2 linked regions of the Homo sapiens genome follow. The protein of the gene in region 1 purifies or fractionates together with the protein of each later gene. This does not show direct contact. Each region holds a gene or a part of one and is shown in the gene's direction. Other genes may lie near its edges.

Region 1 (17,043 bases):
CCGTCTCTAGACGATTCTTGCTCCTTTCACCCTCACAGCCTCCAGTGGTCGCTTCATCTTCGCACCCTCCCGGCCAACCCTAACTCTCCTCGTCTCTCCTCGCGCTGTCTCGCGTCCTCCCCTCAGGATCCTTCCGCACATTCTCAGCGTCCAGCGCGGTTTCCCACAACTTCCTCACGCCCCGCTCCCCTCGCCCTGTCCCCGCCCTCGACACCACCTGCGTTCCCCACTCGCTCCAACCTCCCTCCCCCGCTATCCCCACTTGTGGGCCTCCAGCTCTCTGCCCCTTTCCTGGCCCCCATCCCTGACACCCCAGGGACCCTTCCTCCCTCCTCACGTTCTCCCTCCTTCCAGGATCCCGCCCCGACACTTCGGGGCCCTCCCGCTACGCGCACTCTTTCTCCTCAGGTCCTGACACCTGGGCGCCCCCTCCCTGTCACCCACCTTCAGCTCCAGCCCTGACTCTCGGGCGCCTTGCCACCCTTACGCTCCCCGCCCCGCCCCGGTCCCTCGGGCGCCCCCACTCGCCGCCTCTACCTCCCTACCTGCTACACCTGGCACCCCTGCCCCCACCCCTGCTCATACTCTTCCCCCGCCCCCGACACCTCGGGCGCCCCCTCACACGCTCCTATTCTCCACACTTCCGTCCCCGAAAACTCGGGCGCCCTCTCCCTTCACGCTCAGTCTCTCCTCCCTCCCCGCCCGGCCCCGGACCCAGCCTGGAGATCGCGCTCGGGAGGGGCGGCTGCCGCCCGCGGGGCGCCCGCGGTGCCCGGGCCTGGGCAGCGAGGAGGTGACGCCGCCCCCGCGGGATGAGCCCGGGAGGCGGAGGGGCGGAGGAGGTGCTGGCGGCGGCACTGAGCGGCGGCGGCGCAGGGCGCGCGGGCCTTCCGCGCCGACTCCATCGACCCAAGGGGCGGCGGCGGTGGCGGCGGCTGAGCGACCCTGGGCCGGGCGCGTGATGAGGAGGGGCCGGCGCCAGACCCCGCTGCACGTCGGAGCTCGCCTGGATCCGGGCGTTGGCAGCCGAAGGGCCCTGGCCCCGGGACTCTCCGCCGCTAGCCCCCGTCATATCTTCTCCGCTTTCGCTTCTCCACTCTAGCCGGGGGTGGGGTGGGTGGGGTTGGGGTCTCCGCGGGGGTTTCCGGCCCCGCGGCCCGCTCCCGGGTGTGCCTGGAGGAGTTCTCCCTCTGTGGCGCGCGGGAGCCCTGTGATGCGTCAGCCGGCGGGACGGATGAGTTGCTTCTCCGGGAAACCGTCCTCGCTTCCTCACGACCCTCTCGGCTCCCGCCTGGGTGCCCCTCGGGCCGGCAGTACTCCGCCTCCGGGCGCTCGAAGCGAGTTCCCCGGGGGCTTGTTCGCAGGCACCCCTTCCCCTCCGAGGCGGCGCGCGCGCTCCCGGCCCTGACCGCGGCCGGACACACTCGCGCCCCGGTCCGCCTGTCGCCCTCCCGCCTGCTCCCTCCAGTCACCCCACCCTTAGCTGTCCCCGCCACCTTACTCCACCACCCTCCCCCGCCTCTCCGCGCACTCCGCGTCCCGGCCTCCAGTTCCCCTTTCCCTTGAACCGCTCACTTCACAGCCCTTCGCCCCCGGGAAGAAGAAACATTTCCCGAAGCGCACTCCTCAGCCCTCCTTCCCCACGCGCTCGCCCTCCCCTCCCCCTGCTTTTCTTGGGGGAGGGGGGCTGTCGCCTTGGATTGAAGGCCATTGATTTGTATGTATTTGTCCCAGCGCTGGAGGCTGCCCCAGCCGCCGCGCCGGTGCCGCCGCTGCCAGTGGAGTTGCCTCCCCGCTTCCCTAGGGTGGTTCGGCTCCACCAAACATGTCGGCTCCTGTCGGGCCCCGGGGCCGCCTGGCTCCCATCCCGGCGGCCTCTCAGCCGCCTCTGCAGCCCGAGATGCCTGACCTCAGCCACCTCACGGAGGAGGAGAGGAAAATCATCCTGGCCGTCATGGATAGGCAGAAGAAAGAAGAGGAGAAGGAGCAGTCCGTGCTCAAGTAAGGACCTGGCTCCATATTCCCGCCTCTCTCCCTGCCCTCCGCCCCCTCGCCCACTGCCCTGCGGCCGCCTGCGCGCCCCAGTTCGCCGCCCTCCCTCCCGCTGGCGGCGCCCAGGCCACGAGGGCTGCGGCCAGCGCCGGCCGCCCGGGCTGTTTTAGGGGTGTCTGAGAGCAGGGGTGTGTGTCGGGGAGGGAGGGCGCCAAGGCCGGCTGAGGTGAGGGTGGCGAGCCTTAGGCGGTGTGATTTTCCTTGGCGCCTTTCCGGATTTCCTCGCTGGTCATCTTGGCTCCGGGGCCCCAGCGGGACTGGGGCTGAACCCAGGCTCTGTGCGTACCCTCTCCTTTCCCGCCGCGCTGAGGCAGTGACTGGGGCACAGAATCCAATATGGCCGTGCACAGGTGCTCCCTGGACGGACCCGGGCGAAGGCGCGCTGGCAGGGGATGCGGACGCCACCCTGGTCCCACGCCTCCGCGGGGCGGCTCTACCAGCAACGCGGGACAGAGCAGGGCTGCCCACAGTGGCTGCGAGCAGCGGGCGGCGGCGCGGGCTAGGGGCCTAAGCTCTGTCGCGGTCGGGTGGGTGTGCGTCCGCCGCCATCTTCCAGCCCCTCCCCCTCGGCGAGTGCTAACACCCTGCACTCTGCTGCTCTTCCTGTTTGCAACTAGTAAATCTGTTTAATCCTGAAGAGACTCCAGTTCCTACCATCACTGCAGTTTGGGATGCTCCCTACCTTGTGAAGTTCTACTATTCTTGCTCACGGTCTTGGCAGGCCGGGTTTTTCTGAGGGTGGTAGGAGTGAAAGCAGCACCCAGGCATGCGTTTACCGGCTCTGGAACTTCAGCACCAGGGAACTGTCCAGACAGGGTTATCTTTAGCTCTGAGACTACTTTTCTGGTTAGCGTAGCAAAGAGATTTGTTTCTACAAGGTTTGCTTTTGAATGTTTTATGGTTATTTGATTTCTCAGTTACTTTGTGAAAGAGGTTATTCAGAAGATGTGTAACCTTTTTATGTTTTTCCAGCTTGGCTTTTTTCTTTTTACTTGAAATGAGTTATTCAGATGATTCTTTTGCGTTTTGTCAAGTATACGTTTCCCATATTCTCCACAGAAATATACAATTGAAAGTGTAGAGTTCCTCTGTGAAGGAACTAATACACTCACCTCTATTCAGGTACATTTTAAAAGCAGGTTGTTGAATTTAGTAGTCTTTCATGTACTAATAAAGAAACAGGTTTCATTGTCAATAGGTATATATTTTCATATTTTAATGAAAAATACCACTTTAAATAATTTATAGTAGCAAACATCAAATATTCACAAATCTTAGAGAAAGATACTATTTCTCACAAAATATTGAGTGGCTAAAAGAGCAAATATGTTCCTGAAATAACTGAAATTAAGAATGTCTTCATGAAAGCTAATTTCTGGCGTTGAATACTTATTTGGGAATGTTATTTATTAACAGCCTTCAGATATGAAGAAATTAAGAGACTTAAGCAGTTTACTCTAACTAATAGAAGAATAAAGCATTATTTTTAGAAGCTTTTTGAGCATACTTCTTACTGTGCTTAACTTTTTTTTTGTATACTAACAATGCCAAGCTTTTGATGACTTGCAGTTTGATATTTAAATATGTGAACTTAATGCCTTTTACTATAATTGATAAAAATCAGTGCGGCCAAAATGATGCTCCAGTAAAATGTAGTTTTATTTTTTTGACTTACCTATTTAAATGTAAAATGTGTTTTTATTTCTTCATAGTAGAAATACTATGTGGCTAGTTCACTGTAGTTCTAAGTTTATTTGTTGTTTTAATATAGAAATTTAAGTGGACTTTAAGTATTAGGATTATTCAAAATGAACAGTATGTTAGGAAGATGTTGTAAAAGGGTTTTTCAGGTAGCTACATATGTATATATTATTTCTGTATGTAAACCTACATACTATTCAATACATATAATATTTACATATTCATATTTCCATAGTTTAGATAGAAACAAATGTTCTCTAAATACATATTCATACAATCTATAAAATTACATTGATGAAAAATATATATTCAGATTTATTTTAAATATTTGTTTGCATTGCTACCTAACTTAGTCTTAGAAAGGAGTCTTACCTCAAAATGGCTTTCATGGTTTCACATTCTTGTTATATTTATTTTAACAAAAAGTTATTTGGAGGTTAAAGCATAATATATTTGGACATTTGGTTTTAAATGTTCTTAATTTTTTTTTAACGAAAGAGTAGGCAAGGAAATGAAATGAATAGACTTTATAATGGAATTATAGTAATGAGAGACAAATCATTTTGAAGATTTTGACAGTTTACTAAATAATACATTATCAATATTGGGTATTAAATTACAAATACATAAGAAAAATAATACTAACGGTCTTCAATGGTTACTATTTCCCATGAAGTTTTAGGGTTCGCTTACCTAGTCATTACTATCCTTTGTTTCTTTTTAGTGCTGTTCATTACATTGAAAATTAACATGTATTTTAAGAGTAGAGAGAAAAATAAACTGAAATTTAAATGCATGTCTGCTGCCTTTTAACATTTATGTTAAAAAATACATTTGATGTGTGAAGATACTGCAATGGTTAGATAAAAATATTTTTGCATGATCTGTGAGTTTCAATGTTCATATTAAGTATTCATGCAAAGTGGAGAGAAAGAAGGAATTTGAACCTTATTAATATTTAATATATAGATGACAATACCTAGATGCATATAATTTTAAATATGCATGTAGTGAAAGATTCATGCTTGAGATATTTTTAATAAGAGAACTGAGTGATCAAAACTGAGACCATTACTGTTATCTCTCACCTTAGGAGCCTGAATAATTAAAAGCTATTCCTAATTATTAGTAATTTCCTCAAAGTCCAGCTGAACATCCACATAGGAAGTCTATCATCATCAAATAATACCATTTTACATATGAGCGAGGTACTATAATTTTGGAAGCATTTAAAAATCTCAGTAGAACCCTAATCAGTAATTACTTTAAAGAATCCTTTCATGTATTGCTGTAGCAGTTTAAATTTGGCTAATTCAATTTATCAGTAAAATTTATAATGTCCTTTTACTGACTAATGTTTTTTTTTCAATCTTCCAAGACATCTGAATGATTAATGTTTTTAAGTCTTGTCTTTCAAGATTGTAAACTTCTTGAGGGCAAGAATCAAAATTTACCCTTTTTTTGAGTTTGTGTTTTGCAGCATCCTTAACACCTGCACGTAATAAGTACTTAATAAATTGTGTTTATTTAAATTGTGGTAATGTTAATGAGGTAGCTTATCAATTTTGTGGGACAATGAGGAATCATTGTTTGAAAGAAAAACATAATTTATTAAAAGTTGAATTTCCAGTGGGTTTTTGTGTAATTGTGAAAAAATGTCTGAGGAAAGCAAACCCACTAAATCAATAGAAAAGTATTCAGTAAATACTGAGTTTCTAATATGTACATATCATAGCCTTTCAGATAAGCTTTTTGTAACACAAATTAGAAATTATGTGTTTCTTGATGTGTATATTTTCATTCATAGTTTAGATTTTCTGTTAAAGGGTTAATTTGCTTCCCAAATAAAGGAAGGCAATAAGTAAAAATTTTCCTGATAGGTTAGGATAACAATTAGTATATATTTAGCACATATATAGTGAGCAGTTCTCTATTTTTTAAAATAATTCAATTTTAAAAGTATTTTCTAAAGTTAATTTATAAAATTTTGAAATAAAATCTTTTTTTTTCTTTCTTTTCTTTTCTTTCTTTCTTTTTTTTTTTTTTTTTTTGAGATAGGGTCTTTCTTGGTTTGAGGCCCAGGCTGGAGTGAGATGGCGAAATAACGGCTCACTGCAGCCACGACCTCCTGGGCTCAAGCGATTCTCTCACCTCAGCCTCTGGAGTAACTGGGACCACAGGCAGGTGTCATGACACTCGACTAATTTATTTTTTATTCTTGTAGAGATGAGGTCTCCCTATGTTGCCCAGGCTGGTCTTGAACTCCTGGGCTCAAGTGATCCTCCTGCCTTGGCCTCTCAAAGTGTTGGGATTACAGGTGTGAGCAACCCGCAGCCCCCAAATTTCTTAGCTACCTATTTCCCCTACCCAGAGCCAACTACTGTTACTAGTATATTTTATATTGTATACTCTTCTAGAGACAGTCTATGCATAAGAATAAATACATGTGTATATATAATATTGTGTGTGTCTGTATATGTGTGTATGTGTGTGCTCATACATGTATGTATGGATGGATGTAAACGTAAAAACAGAAATGTGTCCTGCAGTTTGCTTTATAAGAGGTCAGTTCCACATCTGTGACTGTATAGCTGCCTCGTTAACCTTAATGGATATAGGATATATACTATCCCTTTTAATGAATATTCTGTAATTTCTTTAACTAGTACCATATTTGTGGGTATTTAAGTTTTTTTCTAAGTATTTTGTCATTAGAAATTTTTAGTATTTATCACAGTATTATCTGTGATAAATATCTTCGTACATGCATTTCCTACATGTATGAATGTATATTTGAGACAGATTCCTAGAAACAAAGTTGTTGGGCCAAAGGGTTAGTATATTTTAAATTTAATAAATATTGTGAAATTTACTTTTGTAGAGGAAGTGTGTATAAGTGGTGTGTACTAAGGGGACTTTCCCACATCCTCGCCAACTCAGTGTATGGCAATCTTTACCAATGTTTCAATGAAAAAGATGCCACTGTAGACTTATTTGCAATTTTCTTGTCAGAAAGATTGAGAGCCTTTTTAAAAAAATTTGGTTACAGCCATTTGTATTCCCTTTTCTATTAGTAATTTTTAGTGATTTGTGGAGGCTCTCTTACATGTTATTTGTTTTAGGACCTTGTTTATGCCTTTTTTACTGGTCACGATTTAAAAAAATTGAATTTATTGTAGTTTTGTTTTATGGATTTTGAGTTTGTGATCTTCTTAGAATGATCTTCCCTATTCTAGTATTTTTAAAAAGTACCAATTGAATCATGAATACTTTTAAATAAAAATTGCATATGTAAACCACTGTTGCCATTGCCAAAAAAATGAAAAACTATAGTTTTTAAGGATTCAAAATGCATTCTAAAAAATTGATTGACATTTTATAAGAAAACAAGCAAACAAAAAATTGACTTATATTTTATGAAAGAGTACCCAATAAATTTATATATATTCTATTTTGAAATAAGGGCAATTAAATAATATCTTCCTCTTGACAATAGATTTTGATAAAGAACTAATTATATTGTGCGATGAAGAAAGAGATAGTGGAAGCAAGTGTGATAAACCAGATGAACTTTGACTTGACACCTTACTTTACTAATTAATAATGGTAACGTTTTGCTTATATTATTAAACTCTGAGTTTCCTCATCTATACTATTTGAGTAATAACACCTATTTTGAAGGATTGTGATTGTTATTATTAAACTCTGAGTTTCCTCATCTATACTATTTGAGTAATAACACCTATTTTGAAGGATTGTGATTGTTATAGACTAAGTATCCTGGCATAAGTAGTGGTGCAATAAATAATCATTATTGTTAACTGACATAGATAGCACTCTTTAAACCTTATCATAGGATTGCTGGGTGAAATTTTCTTATTTTCTAAAAATTGAGAGATTCTTTTCCTTGTCTATTATGAAGTCAAAATATGCCAGGAGGGCTTTTAAGCGACTTCATTATTTGTTTAGAAGACTAGGGATGGGGAGAGGGTGGGTGACAACTTGAAAATAGTTTCCTCAGCAAATACCATTCTTAAGGAGCCTGATAACTAAGACATAGCAGTGAAAATAGCACTGACATCAAGTTATTGGTAATCGGCAAGATACTGATAGTCAAAGGTGAATTGAGGGGACTTACTTGTGGAAACTACTTTGTAATTGACTTTAGATTTGCCTTGGTTAAACTTTTTACTCTATTATTTAACTAAAATCTATATTTACCTATTTGTCTTATTCACATTGTATCTAAGAACCCAGAGAACCGTATTAGGTTAAGCTAATTCTGAAGTATGGTTATTGAGCTTAGAATGCTGATCTTCACATCGCCCCTCAAATACACTTAAGCTTTGTATGATTGCCGGTTTCTCATCCTTCTGGCTTAGCTTCAAATTTGGATCTTTAGAGAGCTCTTTTCTGACCACTCTTTCTTATGTAGATTCTCTCCATTATTCTTTATAACAATACCTTTTATATTTCCCCAATTATGCTTATCAAAATTTATAATGATTTATTTACTTGTTTATGGTCTGTCCACTCTGCTAGATTATCAACTCAAAGAGAGCACACACCATGTCTGTTTTGTTCACTAATGCAGCTTCAACTTCTAATGTAATACAATGCCTTACACATAGTAGTACTCAAAAATATTAATCGGGTGAATGAACGCACATTGGGAATGAAATATTATGTTCATCTAGGTGGTACAAACTTTCAAGGTGAACTCCAATAATCTTAAAAAAAGATTTGCTTATGTAGTAGTGTCCTTATTTTTGAAATCAAATGTAATTTTTAAACATGCCTAATTTTGCTTATTTTACATGGAAGGAAACTTACAGTGTTTGTGTATGATTGCAGCTTATCTTTCTTTTGGACTAAGAGCATATCTTTTTTGACTAGAAACTAGAAGAACATTGTGATAGATATCATTTTTAAATTTAAGGAATATTAGGAATTAGGGAAAATTTGGCTGTAAAAGTGATCCTTTAAGAGAATTGATACATTTCCATTGTGTTTAGCACAGATGAGTGATAAAGAGTACACAGAAGGCTTTGGATAGAAATAGTTCATGCCCTCCAGGGACAGATAATCTAAGGCCAACCATAATCATATGAACACATAAAAATGTAAAGTGTCATGAAAAAATACTGTAAAGGTGTTTTTAGTACATTATAACCATGGTAAAAAATATGTCAGACTAATCTTACTAGTAGTTTATTGCCTCTATGGTATTGTTTGATTATATTGTGTTATATTACATGGTGTCACATAGTTTTTCCTGTTAAAATATCTGAAAGTTTCACTGCTAGATATTAAAAACTTTTGTATTCTCTAGTCACCTAATGAAATACAGATATCTCTGGGAGTTGAAATAATTTTAACCATTATCAGGTAATTCTTAAGGAGCTCATTGTAAGAAACGTGATAAACCACATGAAAATTTTGCATGGTAAGTACCAGGAGACTACTGTGCACTACAGTGTATCATGGATATATTTTACAAGAGGAGCACGTGATTCAGTCCTGGGAAGATGCCATCTAGGCTGAATCTCAAATGATGAGTAGATGTTAGCTGGGCAGATTGTTCTCTAAGCAAAAATCTTAAAACTCCCAATTCCTCTTTGCCCCCAAAACCTTTCATTTGTTAAAAAAAAAAAAAAAAAAGAAGACGATGCAGGACATGGTCAAGAAGTTTGCTTGAAGTGGTTCAGAAGAGCACAGATTTAAATGGTGATGCGTCAATAGAGGAGACTGGAGAGATGGCAAGGTTCAGAGCCTAAAAAGCCTTCTATGCTATTCTTTGGATTTGGCAATAGGGAGTCATGGAGGGATTTTAAGCAGTGACACAATATAATTAGACTTCTGTTGGAACAAAAACCACTCTCATTTAATAGATTGGTTAGAAGGTGTAATACTAGAGATAAAGGCACTATTTAGGAGATTCTTACAGTAATCCAGGTAATAAATGATGAAGACATGAAATAAGGCAGTAGAGGTGGAGGTGGAGAGTCAAGACAAATTTTTGAAAAATTGAGGAGCCAAAATTGCCAGGATTTGACAGCTGTGTGTTAAGGGTCAGGTAAACTCTTATGATGCCAGACTTGCGTAACTGACTACTGTACATAATATATATCTGCCTGTATCTGCTTATCTCACTTATAGTTAGCTCTGTGAAGTCATCTGGTCCTAGGACCAGTGTTCTCTTGAGGGAGCAGTTGTGAAGTGGCTTATTTTATTGTTTTAGTTATTCTAGAGAGTTTGTAGCATTAATATGAGTAATAGAAGTGACTATAACTTGGTATAATGGGATGGTAGTAAAAAGGACCAAAAGGGACAAAGAAGAAAAGAAAGGACAAAGAACAAAGGGGAGAAAGTAAGATTAGGGCTCTTGGAATCCATTCATAATTAGAAGGAACCCTTCTTAATAGCTTATAAAATTTTTTCTACTGGGTATATTCACACCATGTAATCTTTTCAGAACTTCAGGACTATCATCCTTTTACTGAATATTCCCTACTCCCATTGATAACTTAGTCTCAATGAATTTCTCACCCTCTGGTTTTATTTCATTCTTTGTGTATTTTAAACTATCACACAATCTTTGTTTTATATGTTAGGCTTAGCAAGGACAAATTTCCTTCCCTGTATATATTTCTGTATCACCTCTAAGGGAATTTTGGAAATATGAGTGTATTTTAGGAAAATATAGAGAGGAGATTAGTTATGGAAATGACATGTGGAAGTTGGTGAAGATTCTGTGCATCTTTATATTAGCTTACTGAATTATTGCAGAATTTCAGAAAGTGCTTGTATTATAAAAGGGAGATAAATTTTATTGGGTTTTGTGATGGGAAGCTCCAGAAATAGGAATTGAGGTAGAGTTATGGAAAGGGGAAAGTTAAGAAAAGGTTTACACAGGAGTAATATATTATTTTACCTACTTTCTTTCTAATACGGGTAACCTACAAAATTGAAGACAACTAGATAGTATAAATTAATTGGTCAAGAACTAACAACTTTAATACAGTTTATATATTATGAACACATATCTATATTATATATACCTGTCAAAACTCTTACTTTTTGTACAATATAGTGCTAGCTAAATGCTTTTTAAGGCATTTGGAATTAACAACTTTTGTATAGTTACATGGTTATAAACATTTAGTATTTTTATATAATACAAATACTTTGATAGGTTCTGCTAAACAGAGGAACTGGATAAATGCTCCTTTAAGGCACAGGAGGAATGCCCTTTAGCATTTTTTTCTTCCAATCAAGCTTATGTTCAGCTCGAAGAGACAAATAGTTTGGTAGTTTCTTGTATCCTGTAACTAGGCTTCTGGGAGGCTAAAACTAGGGGAAAAGGATACACTAAACAATATAACTGGGTAGCAGAATAACCACAATGGTGTTTGGTGCTTTGGTATTGTTCAGTTGACAGATGGAGGTGGTGCTCACATTCATCTTGTTTTGTTGGCATATTTGGTATCTGTTATCATTTTTATAATAGTTTGCTTCCCAGGCACATAGATGAAAATCTGTTTTATCACACATAAAACAGTCTTCAATCTGAAAGAATTAATTAATACTTCTATTAGCACACTTATTTTTCTCACTGGGCCAAAATCTAGGTGTAGGTAGGGCCGCATTTCTTTCTAGAAACTAAAGGAGGATTGTTTCCTTGCTCATTTGGGTTGTTGAAAGAATTACGTTCTTTAAGTTATAGGACCGAGATTCTTGTTGGCTATTCAGCTGAGGGCTGTTCTTACCTCCTAGAGGCCTCTTTCTGGTACTTGCACATAACTTGCTATATCTCTGAACAAGCAGTGGGGCATTTTGAATCTTTATTGCGATGCCGTCTCTCTGACCTTTCTTCTGTCATTGCATCTCTCTCTGCCCACGACTAGGAAAGATTTTTTCTCTTTTAAGAACTCATGTGATTAGCTTGAATTCACCCAGATATTCCGGAATAATCTTCTTATTTTAATCATATCTGTAGAGTTCTTTTTGCCATATAAGGAAACATATTTATGTGTTCCTGCAATTAGGACAGAACATCTTTGGGGGGCCATTTATTCTCCTTATGACATTCCTCTAAAGAGTGCCAGTAGATATAAATTTGGATATATATTTTTTTATAAAGTAGATACTGAACTATTCTTATTTTTTAAAAAGTATTTTGTATTCAGAGATACAAATTCCAGAATATCTCTGAAATAATATTTTACTATATATGTTGTACTATAGTTTATAATACTATATTGCCTTCAAAGTGCCGCCAATCTGCATTCCACTTTTTATTTATTTAACAGTTTCCTCCAGAGTTAAAATGTTTGTGTAACTGGGTTTTAGGTGGAGGGACTGGGGGCAAGAAGTGTGAATTGTTCTGTGCCCTGTACGTAAAGATTAAGTACTATTCCTAAGCAGTAGTCATGTTAGTTAATAATTGTATTTATTTTTATAGGGAGAGGAGTAAATAATTTTACCATATGACTAACATAGTGAAGAGTCATTGAAATATTTTCATATGCAGTATTTTCATTATCCAATGGTCATGTTAAAAGACTCAGCATAACTTTATATTCCAGTATGAATAAGTAAATATTTGAATTTAATATTTCCACAAGAAGTAGTTTCTTTTGGCATGTTTGGTTGAATATCCATACTCTACATAAGTGTGCCTTCATATATTACTTTTTTGTAATTTTTTACCCTAGAGTCTGGTTTAATGAAAAGATGCACAGTAGTGTATGTTATGATTAAACTTCATGACAGGGTTTAGGATATAATCAGTTGTTTAACTTAGGCATGTAAAGATTAAAAGTAGCTATGAAATAAAGTAGAAAAAGAAAGTAATCCAAGATTTTTCTTTAAAACTACTAATATAAATTTATGTTGCAGTTGACAGTATGTTAGGATAGACTAGATATCAGAGTCCAGTCTTGATAGAAACTATAATAGTAATTTGAACAGGGACATTTTGATATAAAGTATTACTACTCATAGCAAGGAGCAGCCTTCTTCTAGGGGTAAGGTAGAGTACCTATGACAGAAACAAATTTCAGAGAAGCCCTTCCTGTGTGTCTGAGGCTGAGATTCAGCCCTCATTGGAGGATGTGATTGTGGCTCACTGAGCTGTCTCAGGCTGTGGCAGGCAAGCAGGACATCATCTGTGGGAACGTTGGTGGGACTTGCAGAGAAGCTGGCTGAGGTGCTTAGGAAACTTATTGGGAAGCCACCTCTTGGGGTGCCAGTGAGACTTCTTGAGAAACTGTCTGCTGGGGTGCCACTGAAACTTGCTAAGAGGTTGAGTAACACTGGGTGTCTATAAGCTACTGGCAACCATGCACTGTAGCAAGAACAACGAAACACCCAGAACCTTGAAGTCCTTTCTTCCTTTAATGTCACTATGGCTCCCTCTAGTGACAAAGTTTAACATTTTGCCAACTGCAAAGGAGAAATGGTGACAGTCCAGATTCACTATCACAAAGCAGGTCAAAGAAGGGTGGATTTGGAGCTGAGAGGCAGTAAATTTATAGTAGGCTATGTTATCCCCAATATTCGTATCTTAAAACAACAAAGGTTTATTTCTTTTTGGCGTTATATGTTTCTCTGGATCTCTTTGGGTCTCTACTCCATGTCATCCTCATCCTGGGACACAGGTTAGTGGAGAAAATGCTTTCTGGAACATTCTGAGCAGCTGAAAAGGGAGGCTGCAGTGAATCCTAAGTTGTCTCTTAAAATTTCCTCTCAGAGGTATGCATACAACTTCTGCTTGCATTTTGTTGGCCAAAGCAAATTTCATGATCATGCCTACCTAACTCAGGGTAGAGAAGGACAATCCTATCATGTATAGAGGGAGAACCAGGAGAATTTGTTGAAAAATATAACTATCACAGGATTGATAGAATTGGCATTAGAAAAGTGGGCAATCCTTAGGATAATTGTAGTTCCCGCTTTACAATTTTGTCTTATTTGCTTTCTACTTTTTAAAGAATAAATTTTAGTGAAAAATAGTATCAACATACAAATTGATGATGCTTTTTACTTCTGAACCAGTGAACTCAAACTAGACAATGAGCTTAGTCATTTGTGTAACATAGTGAAGCTGATAAACTAAATCAGCAGGAAATTTTTTTTTGAAGGTTAGGTACAAATAGACTTTTATTTTGAAATTTTGCATTTTTAAAATGTTGTGTTAACTAATTCTTATAAGATATAGAAAGTGGCAGGGCTGCTGTCCAGGTCATGTCATTCCTGGATGTATGCATAGTCCTTGAACTGGATTTCCCAGGATGAACCCAGAATGTATGGGCTTGGAGGCTGCCTGCAGTCGGCAAGTGCTCTGGGTGAGCTGGGCCAGGGAATTACAGGTACATGTAATATGAAATGCCTCTATATGCCTCTATAGGATTTTTTTCCCATTTATGGTTAGTCTTGGATAGGGGATAGAAAACGAGATTTAGATATTTGGATAATAGTCCTGGCTCCATCATTTATAAGCTGTGCTATCTTGAAGAAGTTAGTTAACTTCCTGCATTCTATAAAATGAAGATTGAAAACACAAGTCCACAATTCTGTAACTGAAACTCATGGTGGCAGATGTTTTGGAATTCAAGTATTTTAGACTTTAAAAATGTAAAGGTGTATATACTATAAGATATGTAACTCTTAGCAGGGTTAGGACAGTAGCCCCTAATCAAACATTGATATTTCTCTCGTGAAACATATGAATATTTACAAAAGGGTTAAATAAGGACTACATATAGTCAGGCCAGGAATTTTGGCCCAGACTTACACAAAAATAATTTTTGTTTTCAGAGCTTTTTGGATTTGGGAATTGTGGTTAAGGAAGTATGGGTGTGTGGTATCTTTATCATAGGAGTAAAGTGATGCTATATAAATGAAAGTGCCTGTGAGCTGTAAATTGCTGTAATATGTTAATTATTGTAATCATAGTGGCTGTTGATGTGACCATTATCACCAGCTATTTAAAATAATATTTAAAGGAAAAATTGAAAATTAGATTTTGCTACTTGTAGGATTTTACATAGATCAATATTGGGGTCTTTATTGATCCCAGGTCATTTGAATTTTGATTTAAAACAATTTAAATTTTACTCTTTCCAGAAAGAGCGTTACACATAAAATATCTGATTATATAACTCTTTTGTTTAACGTATCAGTGTTTCCCTATTGCCAGCTACATGCAGCCTTTAACTGGATTCCTTCTCTGAACCATGGAACATACAAAATAGTAAGTAATTCTTTTCTTCTACCAGGGATGGATACATAAATAGTACCATTCTAGAAGCATAAGAAATAAATTAATGTGTTACATACAATGGATGACTTAGAACATTAGAGCTTACCTCTCTTCCAGACCTCTAGCTGACAAAGGCTAGAAAAAGTGTAAAATTCTTAGCATGTCAAACTAGGTCCTTCATGATTTGTCCTCTCTTCATTTACCATCTTTTAGACTTTTCTTCTCCCTTCCCACTGTATATTTTGGCTGAATAGTTAATTTACTTTAACTTAATGCTTCCTAACCTTTTTCACGTGATTCCACATGTAGAAAACAATAAAGGAGGTGTATGTCATATTGAGATAAACTGGGAAAGATTGGGGGCATCTACATGAAAGTTGGTAAAAAAATTAATCACATCTTAAGTTACAAAATTCTAAGCAAAACAAAAGGCAAGGTATTATGGAAGATAGCAAATGTTGAGTTATGAAAACTTTAAATTTTTTTCAATATCTACAATGAGACACTTAGCCAGCTTCTATGAGCATATCTTTTTAATATCAGGTTTATTTATTTATCTTTGGACAGAAACACATTATTCCAAGGTTGTTTAATGATTATCTTTTCAAATTCCTGTTGGTCACCATTGACGAGAAACTCTTAAAGTAGTTGGTAGAAAATTGCAGAGAAGAACTTCATTTTCTGGCATGTGCCTGTAATCCCAGCTACTTGGAAGGCTGAGGCAGGATAATTGCTTGAACCCGGGAGGTGGAGGTTGCAGTGAGCTGAGATGGCGCCACTGCACTTCAGCCTGGGCAACAGGGCAAGACTCTGTCTCAAAAACAACAACAACAACAACAAAAAAACAAAAAAACAAAAAAAAACACACACAAAACAAAAAACTTCATTTTTTTCTGATTGATGGAAACTGCTTTTATGCTATTAGAATTTTGAAAATTCATCCTCTTTAAATTTTACTTCAAAGCTAGTAATATCCTTTAACTCATGTCCTTTTCTTTCAGTGACAATTATAATGTTGAAATTTCCTCTGATAATGAGAATGGTATTCTAATCCATTTGAACTTTAAAAACAATATCAAATATTTAAAAATAATGTTGGTATTCCACAAGCATATATAATGCTCTGCTCATCTTAATTTTTCTTTAGGACTCATATTGTAACATTTGACTATCACTTTAACCTCACTATTCTGGAGCTAAACTGTTGCTTTGAATCTATAAACTTTGTCATATTCATTAATATACTTTCACACAGTTTATGAAAATTTTTTATTAAGTTCGTTCAGATGTTCTAAACTCAGTTAAGCCATTTTTTGAAGTCAATAACTACCTTTCAACAGATCTGTACAGTGAGAATCACTTACAATTTCAATGATATTTTTAACCCATAAACTTCAGAATACAAGCTTTTCCTTTCATAGACAACAAACTTAGGTATGGAACAACAGAGAACAATATTCTGATCTCGTTTCTTTGTGTAAAGCCAACAGTAATTGGGATTGAAGCAGCTTGGAATTGATTAGATTTTTCATTTTGATAACATTTAATGTGGAATTCATATCTAAAGGCAAAATTTATATTCAAGAGCTCTGGAAATAAAATATTACTTGAATTTCAGATTTTTCAGAATGAACTCTGATTATAGAACTTTTCTACTTGTCATCGCAAATTTATACAATATTTCTATAATATTTTATAAATATTAGTGTTTCAAAATCTTAATTTACCAATTTGAATATATTTTGTTTTTGGTACATCTTTGCAGGACAAATATCTTTTTAGTTTTTCCTCTTTAGTGGCTATAGTGTCAGTTATTAACTTAATACTGTTTGCTGACTATAGATTCATTAATCTGCAGTGAAAACTTTAGTTAGTAATTTTGATTAGTGTTGTCTCTATATCCTCTCATGTGCCATCTATACACTTACTAATATCATTGAAAGTGACACATGTTCTTTGTCTTTTTTTCTTTTTGGTTCATCGATTTCAAATATAGTGTTGGCAGTTGGCAGTTTCTATGTAGA
Region 2 (16,592 bases), on another chromosome or scaffold:
TGAAATATTAAAAATCCACATAAGATATAAAAACTAGGTCACAATAGTAATAAAAGATGTCAGAAAGCAAAATGCAGGAAAGAAAACTTCATGCAGTTTTATCAATGGAAAATAAAACCACATTATATGCAGTGACATAATATCAGAAGATCTAGACTAGCCCTAAGCACCTGTCCAGCCTCATCTGACACTTTGTCTTCTCTGTATCCAGTCCAAGTTGGTGAGACTGACCTGCCTTCTTCTCCTTTTGGCCTCAGGGTTTTTTGTACTAGCTGTTACCTTTGCCTGAAATTGTCTTCCCCCAGTTGTCTGCTGTCTGGTTCCTCGTCAGTCAGGCCTCAGCTCACAGGTCCCCTCCTCCAAAATAGTCTTCCCTAACCACCCTTGTGGGAAGGGAAGAAGATCACACATCTTCCCTGATCTCCCCTCCTCCCTGTGGTGCTAACTGTGCCTGACCTCCGTGTAACACCGTTCTGCGACACCCAGCACTCTCCAACACAACCTTGCCTTGATAGGGGTTTCACAGCCTGGGATTATCTTCCTGCCTCTTCAATGTCTTCCCTACCAGAATGTAAGTGCCCTGGCCCAGGTATCTGTTTTGTTCACTGATATTTCTCCAGCACCATAAAAATATCTGACGCATTATTTCCCCAGCACCCATAAAAATGTCTGGCACATCGTAAGTATGCAAGAAGTACTTGTTGAATAAAATGTAATGTTTCAGTGTTGGGCTTAGTGCACGAAAGCATTTTTCAAATATTTTATGTAATAAATCCAAAAGTGTCTTCTATTTTATTAGAAAATTGGATGAATCAACTGGGCACAGTGGCTCACGCCTGTAATCCCAGCACTTTGGGAGACTGAGGCGGGTGGATCATGGGGTCAGGAGTTCAAGACCAGCCTGGTAAAACCCCATCTCTACTAAAAATACAAAAATTAGCCAGGCATGGTGGCGGGCGCCTGTAATCCCAGCTATTCAGGAGGCTGAGGCAGGAGAATTGCTTGAACCCAGGTGGCAGAGGTTGCAGTGAGCCGAGATCGTGCCACTGCACTCCAACCTGGGCAATAGAGTAAGACTCCAAATCAAAAAAAAAAAGGGAAAGAAAATTGGATTAACCAAAATGTCCCAAAGCATTTTGCATAACTGAGACATTATAAAAGATGACTTTCCCTTAGCCTCTGTTCCTAACCAGACATTATTCTGTCCCCCCTCCTCCCTGTGGTGCTGTGTCTGTCCTCCAGTGTCCCTCCCTGAGTACATAGAGGTATACATGCTCTACACGTGCCTGGAAAGGCACCTGAACTGTCTTCTCCCATGGTCATCATATATACCACATACCGTAAGCATCATGCATGTGTTACACATGCGTATCTGCATGTCATACACCTCTTGGATACTAAAGATCTGTAGGGAGACCGGACTCAGGGCTCCTCCTCAATGATGCACACAGTGAAGGCTAGTTCAGCTTCAATTCCCTTTTATCTCTGGTCCTCACTGTGCCTGGCCATTTGGTTGCTATCACAGGCACAATCTTTGTTAGGTGAGACACTGTGTATTTCTGGATCTTGTGAAAAAAAAAATTCTTGTCCCAAATATGTGGAGGTCTGAGTGAAATAATCAAATGGTGTAAATGTGGTTTTACACATGCTAAGCAAGGAGTAATTAACAAAGGTCCTATATTTGATAGGCATAGGTCTGGAGACAGAATCAAATCGGTAGAGGCAGAAATGTAAGAAAAAGCAATCTGGCAAACATTAAGAGCAAGGATGGTACAGATCTTAAGGGGCAACAGAAGGAAGATCAAAACTGTTGAGGGCAGGCATTTAGAAGAGGCCTGACGGTGAGGAGCCGCTTCCTGAGGGATCTGAGCAGAGGCAGAATAATAGGCTAAGAGGAAGGCTATTGTGGCCGCTGTCTGGGAGCGGGAGGTCCTAGAGTGGTACCAATGAGGTGGCGTGGCCTGGAGGGCCTGCCGGTCAGAACTTGAAGAATGAAGTCTTCTCTTCCGCAGTGGGAGAGCAAAGGGGGAACTTGGACTAGGGCACAAGAGTCAGTGCAAGCTGGCTAGGAAGGTGGGGGCAGCCACAAAGTCCTGGTAGGCTATGTCATGTCTTTATAGGAGTGAAAGTGGAACTTGGCTGGCCTGCTCCTGAGGGGAGGACACCACAGAAGGGTGACGCCTGCCAAGAGCCAGGCCGCAAAGGCCCAGTCTGAGAACAAGGTACCTCTGACACCTCAGCGGACTCAAGGGAAATTCCCTGCATCAGAGCTTGAGGGAAATTTGTGTTTGGGATGCCGGCCTCAGAGCCTCTGGCTTGTGCCAGGCCGAGGTGCAGACAGTGGTCACCCCTTCCTCTGGATGCTGTCTTTGTACTGGTCACTCTGATGCAGGCTGACCCCTAAATTGGGGCTCAGCTGGAGAGAGTTCTTGGCTTTCCTAAGGAAGGAATTTAAGAGCGAGCTGACAATGAAAGACAGCAAGTTCATGAGAGGAACAGTATACAGGAAAACAAGTGCTCTGTAGACCGAGCAGCGCTGTCTTATAGGCAGGGTAGCACAGAGTAGCACTCACAGAGTGCTGGCCGGCTCTATTTATACCTACTCTAGTTACATGCTAACTAAGGAGCGGGTTTTTCACAAACTTTCTGGAAAAGGGGCCAGGAGTTCCTGGAACCATCTAAGGTAGCTTCCCGGTCATTGCCGTGGCATTTGTAAACTGTCATGGCGCCGGGGGGCGGGAGGGGGGGTGAGTATTGTCTTATGCAAATGCATTATAATTCCTAGTCCTAGCTGGTTTGGGCTGGTTTCTTTGCTACATCAGCAGGGTGGTGACCAAGGCTGGGAAAACAAATCCTGCTGATCTTCTACCTCCACTCTGCAACGCAGGCCCCAGGAAGGACATCTACTTCTGTGCCCCTCTGTTTTCAGCTCTAAAGAAAAATAGACGCGTGACATAGTCACAGAGTTCTTCACTCACCACATCATTTTTCCTTTCTGCACTTCCCTCCTCGAGTGCATGTCCTGAGGGGAATTCATCAGCTTTCAGTTGGGCCCATCTCTAAGCCCTGTAGGCCACGAACTGTAGGAACATATTCATTTTTGCACATAAGCTCCGAAGACCTGTACTTAGGATTAGTCCCAAGAAACATCAGTTTAAGCGTGGCGACAGGGGGGTTCAATTTGTTCCCCTACACGGATCCGGAGCGCCTTCTAAAGGAGGCGCTCTAATGTGGGGCATGTTTGCCCCACATTTACTCCTGAATTACCAGTTGCTGTCTTAATGAGCTATTTGCTCAAGGGAATGTGTCATAAACCTCAGGCTGGCTACTGGGGAAAAAAAGATGAGAATCTGTGCTTTGGAGTAATCAGACACTCCCCCACTCCGGCCTGGCGTTATAGAAAGTTGCCTGGCCAGCTCCAGGCAGGCCAACCTGCTCTGGCAGGACCATGAAGCGTAGGGTGTAATTTTTGGTTTCACCCCTGCTGCAGCAGTTGGATAATGAACCCTATATCTCTTTAACCTTTGTTTCTGCCAGGCTAGACTGCGAGCACCAATGAATAAACAGCTGTCTACCGTCAAAAATAACATAGGCTGAAGTTTGTGGAAAGATAGACTCTAACTAGATGGTTTTAGTTTTTAAAATCCTCCACTCTGGTCCAAGAAATCAACTGTACGTGCACAGAGCAGAAAGCTGCATCCACAGCAGCTCAGCAAAGGAGGCTGAGAGGTTTAATTCATGAATACTTCAACAGATGTCAGTGGCATGACTTCTTTTTAACTGTAGGCCCAGTATAGCATCATCTAGATCAAGGAAAGAAGAAAGATCATAATTTCTCTGCACTTTACAATTTGTTTAGTCTAGGGCACCATACTAGAGACGGTTTGGAAGAGAACCAAAACTGTCTTATGAAGAATTGTTGAAGAAATTGAGAATATTTAGGCTGAACAAGAAAAGATCTGGGGGTGTGAAGATATCCATAACAGTTATATCCAAGTATTTGAAGACTTGTCCTGTTAAAAAGAAATTAAACATGTTTGCTGTTGGGTCATTGCCGTGGCATTTGTAAACTGTCATGGTGCCCGTGGGAGTCTTATGCAAATGCATTATGAGCTCCAAGGATAAATGAGCGAAAAGTAAAAGGAGAAAGACTTTAACTCAAAATGATAAGTTTTAATAATCAGAGATGTCTAACAATGAAACAGGCTATTTTTGGAGGTAATGAGTTACTCATTGCTGGATGCATTCAAACAGTGGGAGAGCCACTGTTTATAGGCAGGCTGTAGAAAAAGCATTATGCACTCTGGAGATGGTTCAAGGAGGTGACTCCTGAAGTCTCTTTCAGCAACTCAGGAGAGTGCCTTGTAGTTGGGTGTAGTTGTCAGTAACTGCTTAATATTACATGTGTTAATGGGTGCAAAAGGAGGTGAAGTTAAAATATTAAGTTAACCCTTCTTTGGCCTTGTGAAAGCATTTGTAACTATGCATTGACCGGGAATGCTAGTTAGATTCACACATCATCACTGTGGGTTCACACCATTAAACATTATTGTCCGGACCTCACAAAGGAAAAGAATGGACCTCGCTGTGAAGCCAGATTTGGATTTCGAAGTTAAACTGAAGTTATCTTTGAGAACAATTAAAAAGGATACGTCAAAATTAAAACCATTGTTAAAATTAATCAAAGATTTAGAAAGGTAGAATGAACTTCAGGGCTGGAAATTACTGATTTAAACAATTGTTCTCACATTTTAAACTACATGAGCTAAAAATTATGAAGTCTCAGAGTATAGCTTTAAAGAGTAGCATAAAACCAAAGTCAGAATGAAATGTTTTAGCTTTCAAAACTAAAAAGCAGAACAATTACTCCCTACAAAATGGTATAGGAAGAGGTTTCTGACCCCTGCTAATTGTTTTATTATTCTTCAGAGGGGCATACTGGCAGCATTTCCCAGGGTTTTCGGTAATTACACTCCATTCAATATCTGAAGAATTACAATAATTCTACATGGAATATACTTGTGCCCTTCAGATGCAAAGCCTTTAGAGAAGTGAAAAAACAACTTAAAAGTAAATTAGCAGGGAAGTTATCATAGTTACTATTTATTTCACGGCTCCATATATCAAGGGCTAATTATACATTGTACGTTACATTTTCTGGGAGGGATTTGTGATATGTTTCTCATGCTGATCAACAGATGGATGTGTCAGTTTTCACGATCTTTGATGAAGTGAAGTTCTAACTTTTCCAATTGCCTCTTTGTGTGCGAAATTATCCAATGCAGGTACATGTCACTTCAGGCTTGCTAGAGTCCTCAAAGCAGTAGTATTCAGTGAGGTATTATGATGCTTGCAGATAATATATTTGTAAGGCCTTGACTCATCTATGATTTTTTTTTACACTATGTAAGCTTTCTCAAAGTCATTTTCTTATACTTTGGCAAGCCAAGGGTCCGTGAGAGAAGAAAGGGTTGACTAGAATTACATAGCTGCTCAGAGATCGGGGAGTCTCTTTCCCTGGGTGGAGCCTTATCAATTTTCTGCTAGTGTTGTAATTAATCTATTATCTCCACAGGACCCCCTTTAGAGCCTGAGCAGTAAAGTGTCCTGAAACATACATAGTGACCAGGAGTGCCAGCTATTGTTCAAATACCGTGACATTCTGGCTAAGAAATGGAGCGTAGGTCTCATCAGTGTTTTTCCCCAGGGGATAGGAGTCTCTGTTTCTGTCCATTTTCTTTTCTCTTTTCTTTTGTTTTTAATTGAGCTCAGCACAAAAGATTCCCTTTTAAGTCTTTATTGCAACCAAAACTTTACAAAGAAGTTAAGATGATCACTTAGTGACCAAATTTTAAAAGGTCAAATCAATTATAATCTGTCCATTTGGTTGAATACATGCTTTTTAAAAAATGTTTTAAAATGCAAATGGCATGGAAAATAGTCACAATGCAATGTGAAAAATTTCAAATCAAAATAAAATATGTATGTACTATATGAATTCAAATCTTTTAAAAACATGTTTTTATATATTTTTAAATATAAGAAGGCTATATGCCGAAATATTAACAAGATTACTCTGTGAAGTAATATTCTAAGTGATTTTTACTTTGCTCTTAACATTTTCTGTATTTTCTGAATTTCTTTTTTTTTTTTTCTTGAGACGGAGTCTCACTCTGTCGCCCAGGCTGGAGTGCAGTGGCGCGATCTCGGCTCACTGCAAGCTCCACCTCCCAGGTTCACGCCATTCTCCTGCCTCAGCCTCCCAAGTAGCTGGGACTACAGGCGCCTGCCACCACGCCCGGCTAATTTTTTGTATTTTTAGTAGAGAGGGGGTTTCACCGTGTTAGCCAGGATGGTCTCGATCTCCTGACCTCGTGATCCACCCGCCTCGGCCTCCCAAAGTGCTGGGATTACAGGCGTGAGCCACTGCACCTGGCCTGTTTTCTGAATTTCTAAGATGTGTATATGTTAGTGTTATAATCAGAAAGGAGGAAGAAGGGAGGGAAGGAGGGAATCAAATCATCAGGATTAACATTAAAATGCAAACTTTTGCTGGAAGATTAGAGAGGTCAGTAATACAGAGTGTGTAGCAAAAATGTGAAGGTAGAATATTTTGACTTGCTGTTCAGCCAATAAAATCTCATACCTCATTAGTGAGTCTTATTTACTGTGAGGAACTTGATAAGCTAACCCTTCTCCACATCTAGGATAGTTACAGATTCTCTTACAAATTCATGGCAACCTCAAGAAAGGATGGTGAAAAAGCACTAATGTACAGTCTCAGGCATGATAGATGTTTTTTACATCATGGGGAATATGCCAACAATTATGAGAGTTATGCCATTAATATTCCTTACCTGAAAATGCCTTGTATGTATGTGGGTACCCCTTTGAAATAATTAAACAAGTTATACATCAGCTAGTTGCCTTCAGATAGTCAACATCTCAGAACATGTCACTTCTCATGGTACCAAGTATTGCAGAAATGGTTTGTTTTCCTTTTTGGATTGTACTCTACGCTTACTTGAATTTCTATCTTTCTTTTTTCTATATTCCTTTTAGCGCATGATTGCAAATACGGCCAGAACAGTGAGATACTACAGGAGCCAACCCTTCAGTAAGTTAAGTGCTGCCACCTCTTACAATGTAGATGTTGGTGATTAAGGTCTTCTTAATGAGGCCATTGAGACACCCTTGGAGCCTGGGAAATATCTGACTGTGTCAGAGACACTTTGGACCATGAATTCCATGAGATAGGGGCCTTGAGTTTAAAGATTTTTTTTGCTGTTTTAAACTAGAACATATTTACATTGTTGTGAAACTAGAAAATCACCATAGGAATATTATTTTGTGAATGAATTTAAAGAGATTTAATTTGCTCTATCCAGTGCAGCTGGAGACAACTAAAGTACGACTGCCAACAAATCCTGCCTCAAACCAACTCTCTTTATGACTCATTGCTCCATGTTGAGAAACTCACATCAGCCCTTGATGACTCAGTTCAGTCAATTATAAACCAGGAAAGATAATATTTATTGTCTTTCAGGGTGTTGCAAGAATGCATTAATGTTTATAGCACATTCGTAAAAGGTCCAAAAACAGGATTTCATATTATATTTCTAGTATTCCCACATGAATTTGAGGTGCTCTTTTAAAATCTGAACATCTATCACAAGAACTGGTATAATACTTTAATATAAAAAAATTACTAATAATAAATAACAATTTTAGTCTGTTGGGAGTTAAGTTGCATCATAGCACCAGATGGTCATACTAGACCAGTGCTACTGTTTCTTCTGGGCTGGGACTTTGGTGGTGGGGGTGGAGCTTTGGCTCCCTCAATCTGGTCTGGAAATGAGAAGGTGAACACTAAAGGTTTTTGCTAAGCTCATTGTATGACTCACTTGAAGAAATTTATCTCATTAACTCAATATGATACTATGACATAGACATGAATCTGAGGCTACCAGTACCGTCTCCTCCAATAAACCGAGTGCTAAGAGACTATGATGTTCTTGTTTTATTAGTCAGAGTTGTTTGTTCTTCCTAGAGCAGGACTGGCTCATGGCCAGATTTGCTAACATGGGACACCAGAACTACTAAATGTTCATTTTTTAATGAATAGGGAGGAAAAATATAAGAAAAATGACATTGATTTGGGGAGCAACTGATTCAAATGACTGTGCCTTCTCTGACTTCCAAAATGTGAATAGTCTTGCAATATCATCAACTATTCTTATGTGGATTCAGCCAGAATTAAAGTGTCTCATGTGTTTTCATCTATTAATTTACGTTGTGTTTAAAGATGTGATCATAAAGCAGTTGTACAAGTGGAAACAAGAATAGATAAGTGACACCAGTTACAACCGGAGTTTATAATCCCAAATCCAGCAGCGGGGATAAAAGGGGACCCTGAAATTATATGCCAAATCGTGTGTGCCTGAGGGGGTTTATAGCCTTAAGAAGGTTTTCAGTGAGGCTCAAGAACCATAAAATAATATGCTTTGTTTTATGAGCTTCTTTGGAAGTAAATCTTGCATTCTTCTATGTCACCTCCTAGAGAAGCCAAGGGGAAAATGTATTTAAAAAGAAAAAACTCCACTGCATTTGTTGAAGTTATCAGTAACTGCTGGTAAACAACAGCTGCTCAGCTCTGAAGTCAACAATCTATAGATAAAGCTATAGGAATAGATTCACAAACACTGTGGGAATGTGTACAATGTAATTACAGTATATTGTACGTGTAGAGTACACTGCCAGTGAGAAGCAGAGGAAATTAAACACAATGTGCTCTGCAGTTCGCTGTGGTATTATTTCTATGTGATAATTATACTGATGAGTTTCTTCTCACAGGGGGCAGGGGCATGTATGTCTTCTCTCTGCTTTTCTGCCTTCAGACCTGCAACACTCCCCTTCACCCCTTGTGCAGATGGCATTCTAATTGTCTTTGGGAGTGCTGTGTGGATCTAGCAGGAGCAACCAGACTGCAGAAGGCAGTGTACTGTGGTGGAAACCCCGGTCAGGAGCCAGGGTCTGGCTCTGCCACTCCGGGTGTCCCCTTAGACCAGAGGCCCTACCCAGTGATGCTTGAAATGGAGGTGGCCCACAGAGGTGTTGGGTCTAAAGAGAGCATTTTTTTCCCTTTTATTTTGAAATAATGTCACCATTTTAAAATTGGGAGAATTCACGAAGAAGAAATCCAGATTTCCCATTTCTTAACAAAAAAAAAAAAAAAAAAGGAAGATCTGGCAACTCTAGGCACAGATTCCCCGTGGCAGCAACATGCAGAAGCCAGGTCATCACTTCCAGAGGGACCTGTGTTTCCAGTTCACCACCTTCTGGTCTGGCTTTCCTTATTCATGTATGTTCCCTGCGAGGGCTGAGTGCATTGGCTCATCATTCAGCCCTGATCTTCATTAAATTGGTTAACCTCAGTTGCTCACATGCTTGGGATGTGCATCAGAATAGAATGGTAGCTGAGTTTTCAGAGCAGATAGCATTAAAGAATCAAACGTCTAGCAGAAGTCATAACTTCAGCCTGTGAGTTGGGTTTTTTCTGAATATGGACAGTCTCTAAGAACATACAGTCGGTATAGTAATGCTGTATACTGTGTGCAAGTAAAGAGGGGAGTCAGGACTCTGTAGTCTCACTGGCTTGCTTCAGTTTGGCCCAGATGTTAAGCGCTTTTGTGAGGGGCTAATAAAAACTGTCTTTTGACATTAGTCTTCATCTGGATCAAAGGAGGCAGAGACACAGAGTGTGAGACACAGAGACCTCTGGAAAGGGAAACAATTTTAATCTATACCCAGGGGCTATCAGACACATGCTTCCCTTTTAATTTGGTGCCATTTTTTTTTTACAACGTGCAATTCAAAGGAGAATGATCAAAAGAGGTGATTCCAGGGAAGAAAAGAAAATTGGAGGGTAGGAAGGAGGAGATGGAACAACCAAGTGGAAACGTTTCAATGATTGTGGTGTGTTGAAAGGTCTTGAGGGAACCCAGGAACCTATGATAAATGTAATAAATAATTGGAGAAGTAAGATTGTATCTTATATACATATATTACACAATGCCAATTCTGCCCTTTCCTCTTTCAACAGATCCTGATGCAGCTCAAGCTAATAAGAACCATCAGGATGTCCGGAGTTATGTACGGCAATTAAATGTGATTGACAACCAGAGAACTTTATCACAGATGTCACACAGATTAGAGCCTCGTCGACCATAGACATTTCAAATGCCCAAAGCAACAGTTTGTCTCCAGTCCACAATCTTTCAAAAATGCCATTTATGCTACTACTGACTGTATTGCCACTAGAGAATTCTACAAAACAAGCAAAAACACATCCTGAGACACCTCAGGGCTGCATTCAGCTTACCAGCTACCTAGCAAGAGAAGGAATTATTTGACATGCCTAAAGCTTACACACTCTAGCTTAGGAATCCCCAGTTTGTGGCTACCCTGTTTCATTTCCACTTGTGCCATCTTCTTTGCTGAAGTGTTGAATAAGGCCCACGTGAAGAGTTTGGTAGAAATAGCCTTGTCAAGAGAACTAGCAAGCCCCTGACATTTTTTTCTAAGAGTGTTTATGGGATGAGATGTGCTACAAATGGGATAGATTTGGATAAAATTTTAACTCAACATCTTGATTTGGAGCCTGGGGTTTCGGGAAGGTGTTGAGGAATCTATAGAAGTCCAAATTATAGGTTGTATTCTTCCATCTTCATTGTCTTACCTCTGAAGGAATAGAACCTGACCACATTATTATGAAACATTATGGCTGTTTATGTAATTTAGGGAGGACTGGTCTGTAATTTCTGAATGTATATAGAATAATATTTATGTTTACAATGTAACTTTTCAAAATTTACAAATCAGGATTATATACATAAGAATTCCACTAAGAAATGCCAAGATTCTTAAATTTGCCAGCGTTAAAGTAGAAAATAACATTTCAGAAGAGCACAATATGCATAAAACATTTTTCAAAATTGAAATATTTTCCTGGGCATTAAAAACCTTTACTATTGGCTACAAATTTATTGTACCTGATGAAAACATATTTTCTGGACTTAAATGTTATTACAAATATCTTAATTTTCAGTAATTGTTTTGCACTTTCAAAGATTGTAAATAGTTCATTCAATCAATGGTATGGAGTTATTTATTTGCTACATAATAGATACTGTGCCAAATAATTACTTTTTATTTATTTTATTTAGTACGTAATTTTGAAGTACATTTTTTCCTGTTTTCACAATTAGACTACATTTAATGTGTAGGAATTGTATGTATGTATATCTTCTGTAAATAACATCTAGTATCTTCACTAAATATAATTGTCGACAAGAAATGGTTGTGTTCATCTCAATTCCTATAATATGAAAGGGGTAACCATTTGGTATGGTGGGGTGTTGGATCTTTTAATGACACAAAATACACATATTATAAAATTCATTCTTTTAAAGTGCAGAATCCAGTGATTTTTAGTATATTTACAAAGTTGTATAGATAACCATCATCACTATCTAACTTCAGAACATTCTCCTCATCCCTAAAAGAAACTCTGAACTCATTAGCAGTCACTTCTTCTTCTCCTCTCCCTCCAACCTCTGGCAACCACGAATCTGCTTTCTTTGTCTTCAGATTTACTCTGGATGTTTCATATGAGTGGAATCATACAGTATGAGGCCTTTTGCGTCTGGTTTCTTTCACTTAGCATAATGTTTTCAAGGTTGACCATATTATAGCTTGTACCAGTACTTCATTTATTTTTATGGCCATGTAATATTCCATTCTATAAATAGACTACATTTTGTTTATCCATTTATCAGTTGACAGACATTTGTCTGTTGTGTTCACTTTTCGGCAATTAGGAGCATTGCTGCTCTGAAGGGGCACTGGATTTTAGAGCTCCCTTGTGTGGGGCCTCATGCCATTTCTCAGTGATTTAAGTACTTAGCAAATATTTGATGAAGAGATATCCAAAATTCTTTAAATTCCAGACATGCCTCTATTTTTTTTAATAAGTCAGCATTTTCCAGAGTGTGTTCCAGCCTATTCTAGTCTCACAAGTTCACATATTGTCCCTCCAAAAACAAACACACACATACAAAGCCAAAAACAAAACCAAGATTCTATCTTCAAATAAATGTGGGGACCACTGCATAATATACCCCATTCATAGAAATGATTCCCAGTATTCACTCACACTGAAGGCTCTGAGAAGTCCTATTGTAATCCCTTTTAACATCCCACAATTAAAGTCCACTTTCAGAAATGCCAAAGCAGGCAAATGCCTCTCTGTGTTCATTCATATAAAATTTCAGGGTCCCCAGAACCAGAGGCGGTGTTTTCTGCGGTATTACACCTGCCTCTGGAGGCAAGTGCAGTGTCTGGGATTTACTAGACAATAAAAGAAGGTCACTGAATAAATTTTCTTGAAATCATTATCGTTCAGTATTTCACTATCTGATAGACCTCAATGTCAGCTGCAAAGGTTCCACTTTTATATATTTTCCTTTAGATATCCTTTATAGTTTCTTTTCTAGATAATTTACAAAGATGATGAACGAAGCTGGGAGCCCGTTCCTGGGGCATCCTTGCTCTTGTTTTGCTTGTCTTTATTCCTACTTTACTGAAAGCTAGCATTCTATATACAGCAGCACTTCTCCCCAATTCCATGGTGAATGCCAACTTACGATCTTATTTTAATATAGTTTCAACATTATTCAAAATTAATACATATTCCCCATGTATGTTCCCCTTGTTCTTCCACATGAGAATAACTTACTGTACTTAATAAAGATAAGACATTTTTAAGTATTTCTAGCTTCTTTGAAAATGCATCAAACTCCATTCTTGAAGGTAGCAGTGGTAAAATAATAGAATTCGCACTCTAAAAATGTAGAGTAGTAGCCAAGCAACCCTTCCTGAGGCAGGAGATGCAGTTAATACTTTAAAACTTGCAAACAAGCCAAAAGAAAATGAGATGCCTACAGGGTCACAAGAAGGATAATGAGGTTTGCTGGAAGATGTGAAAAAGAAGAATGTTTTTACCAAAAGCGCCTGTAGAAAATTATACATTTGAGTGTTTAACATACCTATTTAGCAAGGTCACTGGCATAGTTTATGGGAGCTAAGCTCTTCCGGCAATTTTTGAATACCATGCAGGTTAAATATACTCCTCCTGAATTCAGTGGCATTTCCTCTGAAGGTATGAATGCAGATCAATGACTACCAGTGTGAGAAAATTAAACAGAGTGTCATTTTAGTTTCAAATTGTGCTCCGAATAATAATAAAAAAAGCCTGGAATATGCAGTGTGGTAAAATGAACCCCTACCTCGAATAGCTTTCCTTTTACTGTCAATCTAGAATGCATTACATCTCTTGCTTTAGAGTAATCTTAATCTGTCCTACATTGAAAATTGTGGTATTAGATGAACAGTTACCTTATCCCTTACTTCTAAACTGGAAAAAAGCCTTTAACTTAGGTATTGTTAGTCACTTTTCTATTCATTCATTCATTCATTTTCATTCATAGAAAATAATGACTGAAGTGCTTACTGAGTGCCCTCTGTGGACACAGAATTCAATGGTGAGGACAACTAGAGAAGGTCCCTGTTCAGGTAACCAAAAAATGATGTGAACAAATAAATAGAAAAATGCTTCCTGCTGGGCGCAGTGGCTCACGCCTGTAATCCCAGCACTTTGGGAGGCCGAGGCGAGTGGATCATGAGGTCAAGAGATCAAGACCATTCAAGAGATGTGGTGAAACCCCGTCTCTACCAGAAATACAAAAATTAGCTGGGCATGGTGGTGCACGCCTGTAGTCCCAGCTACTTGGGAGGCTGAGGCAGGAGAATCACTTGAACCTGGGAGGTGGAGGTTGCAGTGAGCCGAGGTCACGCCATTGCACTCCAGCCTGGCAACAGAGTGAGACTCTGTCTCAAAAAAAAAAAAAAAAAAAAAAGAATGCTTCCAAGGAAGGATATGGTGTTGCAAGAGCATGTAATAAGGGAATTTAACCTGATCGGAGGCAAGGAAGTGTTCCCTGTGAAAGTGACAGTTGAGCTGAGCTCTGAAGGATGTGAGTGCTGGCTAAGACAGAGGAGGAGAATGTGTTCTAAGCAGAAAGTAACATTGGCAATAAGGGACAGCAAGCTCACTGTGGCTAATGGAGATCGAAGGAGACAGCATTTCCAGATGTGCTGGAGAGCTAAGAAGGGCTCAGAGCATGTAAGGCCTATGCAGACCTTTGAGTAGGAAGTCATTGAAGAGCTTGAGGCAGGGCGTTGCATTTCCAATGGTGAGCCCTTGAACGGCAGGGCCACTGCTTTCTGTGTACCACACTGCCCAGGACACTTGGTAAGGGCCATCCCTAATTCCTTAGTTACTTTATTATGAAGGCTTAAAGGTAGAGCAGAGGGAGCTGTGGAGAATGCAAGCATTCAAAAGCAGTAGTGGACCCAGACACCCATACAGACAAACATCATCCCTTCTCCTGACTAAGTCCACACTGGGCCACTTTTTAATTTTTTATTGTGGTAAAAGATATACAACATACAATTTACCACTTAAAGCCTTTTTGAGCAAATAATTCAGTGGCATTTAGTACATTCACCTTGTCGTACAGCCGTTGCTGCTATCTATCTCCAAAACTTTTTCAACATTCCAAACTGAAATTCTGTGCCCATCAAACATTAACTCCCCATTTTTCCTTTCCTCCAGCCCTTGGTAACCACTATTCTTTTATCTCTATGAATTTGCCTTTTTTGGGACTTCATATAGGTGGAATCATACAATATTTGTCCTTTGTGTCTGGGTTGTTTCACTCAGCTTAATGTTTTCAAGGTTCATCCAAATTGTAGCATGTACCAGAATTTCCTTCCTTTTTAAGGCTGAATAGAATTCCATTTTATGTCGATTCTACATTTTGTTTGTCCATTCACCTGTTCAAGTCCCAACTTCTCAATACTTTGGGGTATATACTAAGAAGTAGGATTGCTGAATCGTATAGCAATTCCGTTTAATTTTTTTAGGAACTGCCATACTGTCTTCTACAGTGGCTGTACCATTTAATGGGCTACATTGGACATAGCTCGTAATTACCTGCATCATCTCCGAAGCTGCCAATGTATGGCACAGCTGTTGAGAGAAGGAGTGGGCAGGGGACCCAGGGCTCAGTGTGTGGGTATCCAAGCAAGGAGCAGGGAGGCTTCATTTGCCAGTGTCCCATCTGTCAAGCCAGGGCAGCTCATGAGACAATCACAGCCCCAGAACCTCTGTCCATCCTTGCTGCCCTGTGGGTTGATGCACCACACTCCTGCTGCCTGTGGTCTTACACTGCAGGATGGGAGGAGTGAAGGGAATGTTTCTAACCCCCAGAGAATAAGGGCGTGGGAATGGGAAATGTGGTCGCTTTGCTCGGGCTCCTTTGCATGTGCTTTTCAGGCAGCTAGGGAAGGTCAAGGATGCTGCTACAGGAAGCCAGGATCTTTGTTCCTGGGACAATTCAACCTTGGAAGGATTGGGGCCAAAGCCCTGCTCTAAAGGGAAGTAAACACAAGGCACTATGGGCTCATGGGCTCTGACATTTCCCTCCAGATTTGAGGAAGAAAGAGAGCCTAGAGCCAGGGCATGTGAGAGCCGCCTGATTCCATCCCAGTCTTCTTCCTGCATCCTCCTCTGGGAGGGTTCTGACTCTTCCTAGCCAGAGAAAACTCAGGAAGAGTGGAATTCTACAATAGGAGGACCAGTACAAGAGAAACATGAGAGCAAAAGTTGGTGTAAACCTCTTCAGAACAGGTTTTTGCAGCACCTGAGACAAAAAGAGGACTGGAAAAGCTGCATCAGGTCTCCATCTATTTCCTTAGCCAGAGACAGGTGGCAAAAGTCTCCAGGTGATAACATCAAGGACCTGTCAGGAATGGAGGAGAATCGACGATTTCAGGAAGGAGTCCTGACACTTTAGGACAGAGGGACAGACTGATGATTCAGTCTCCCCAGCAGGGAGAAGCGCTTGAGGTAAGGAGACACAGAAGCTCTTGGGGAACGTGTTCTGCACTAGCCAAGCTGTGGTAACTTTAGAAGAATAAAGAAAGAGGTTGTTCAGTGATATCAGTGAGTTTATCAATTGCTGTGTGTATTCGGGTTATCCAGAGAAATAGAACCAATAGAATGAGCTTTAAGGGAGATTATAAAGGATTGGCTTACATGATTATGCAGACTGGCAAGTCCAAAATGCACCATGTGGACTGGCAGCCTGGAGACCCAGGAAAGCTGATGGTGCAGTTCCAGTTTGAAGGCCGGCAAGTGGAGACCCAGGAAGGCTGGTGGTGCAGATAAAGTCCAAAGGCAGAGTCTGCTGGAGCATTTTCTCTTGCTGATGGAGGCCAGTCATTTTGTTCTATTCAGGTGCCTTTAATGGATTAGATGAGACCCGTCTGCATTATGGAGAGCAGTCTGCTTTAGCCACAGCTCACCAATTTAAATGTTAATCTCATCTAAAAACACCCTCCAACTTGACAAAATTAGCCATCACACTGTATAATAAACCACTCCAAATTTTAGTGACTTAAAACCACAA

Evidence for each region.
Region 2: the proteins of RIMS2 (region 1) and RAPGEF4 purify together in Homo sapiens (affinity purification with western blotting; 2 studies listed by BioGRID). This does not show direct contact.

Annotation. Positions count from the first base shown.
Region 1 is NC_000008.11:103,499,062-103,516,104, forward strand, and holds the start of RIMS2 (regulating synaptic membrane exocytosis protein 2), read left to right. Parts: upstream 1-1,548; 5' UTR 1,549-1,825; coding exon 1,826-2,001; intron 2,002-2,338; exon of another isoform or gene 2,339-2,627; intron 2,628-2,734; exon of another isoform or gene 2,735-2,849; intron 2,850-17,043. UniProt on the Homo sapiens protein: Rab effector involved in exocytosis. May act as scaffold protein. Plays a role in dendrite formation by melanocytes.
Region 2 is NC_000002.12:173,041,538-173,058,129, forward strand, and holds the end of RAPGEF4 (rap guanine nucleotide exchange factor 4), read left to right. Parts: intron 1-7,062; coding exon 7,063-7,117; intron 7,118-10,102; coding exon 10,103-10,230; 3' UTR 10,231-11,356; downstream 11,357-16,592.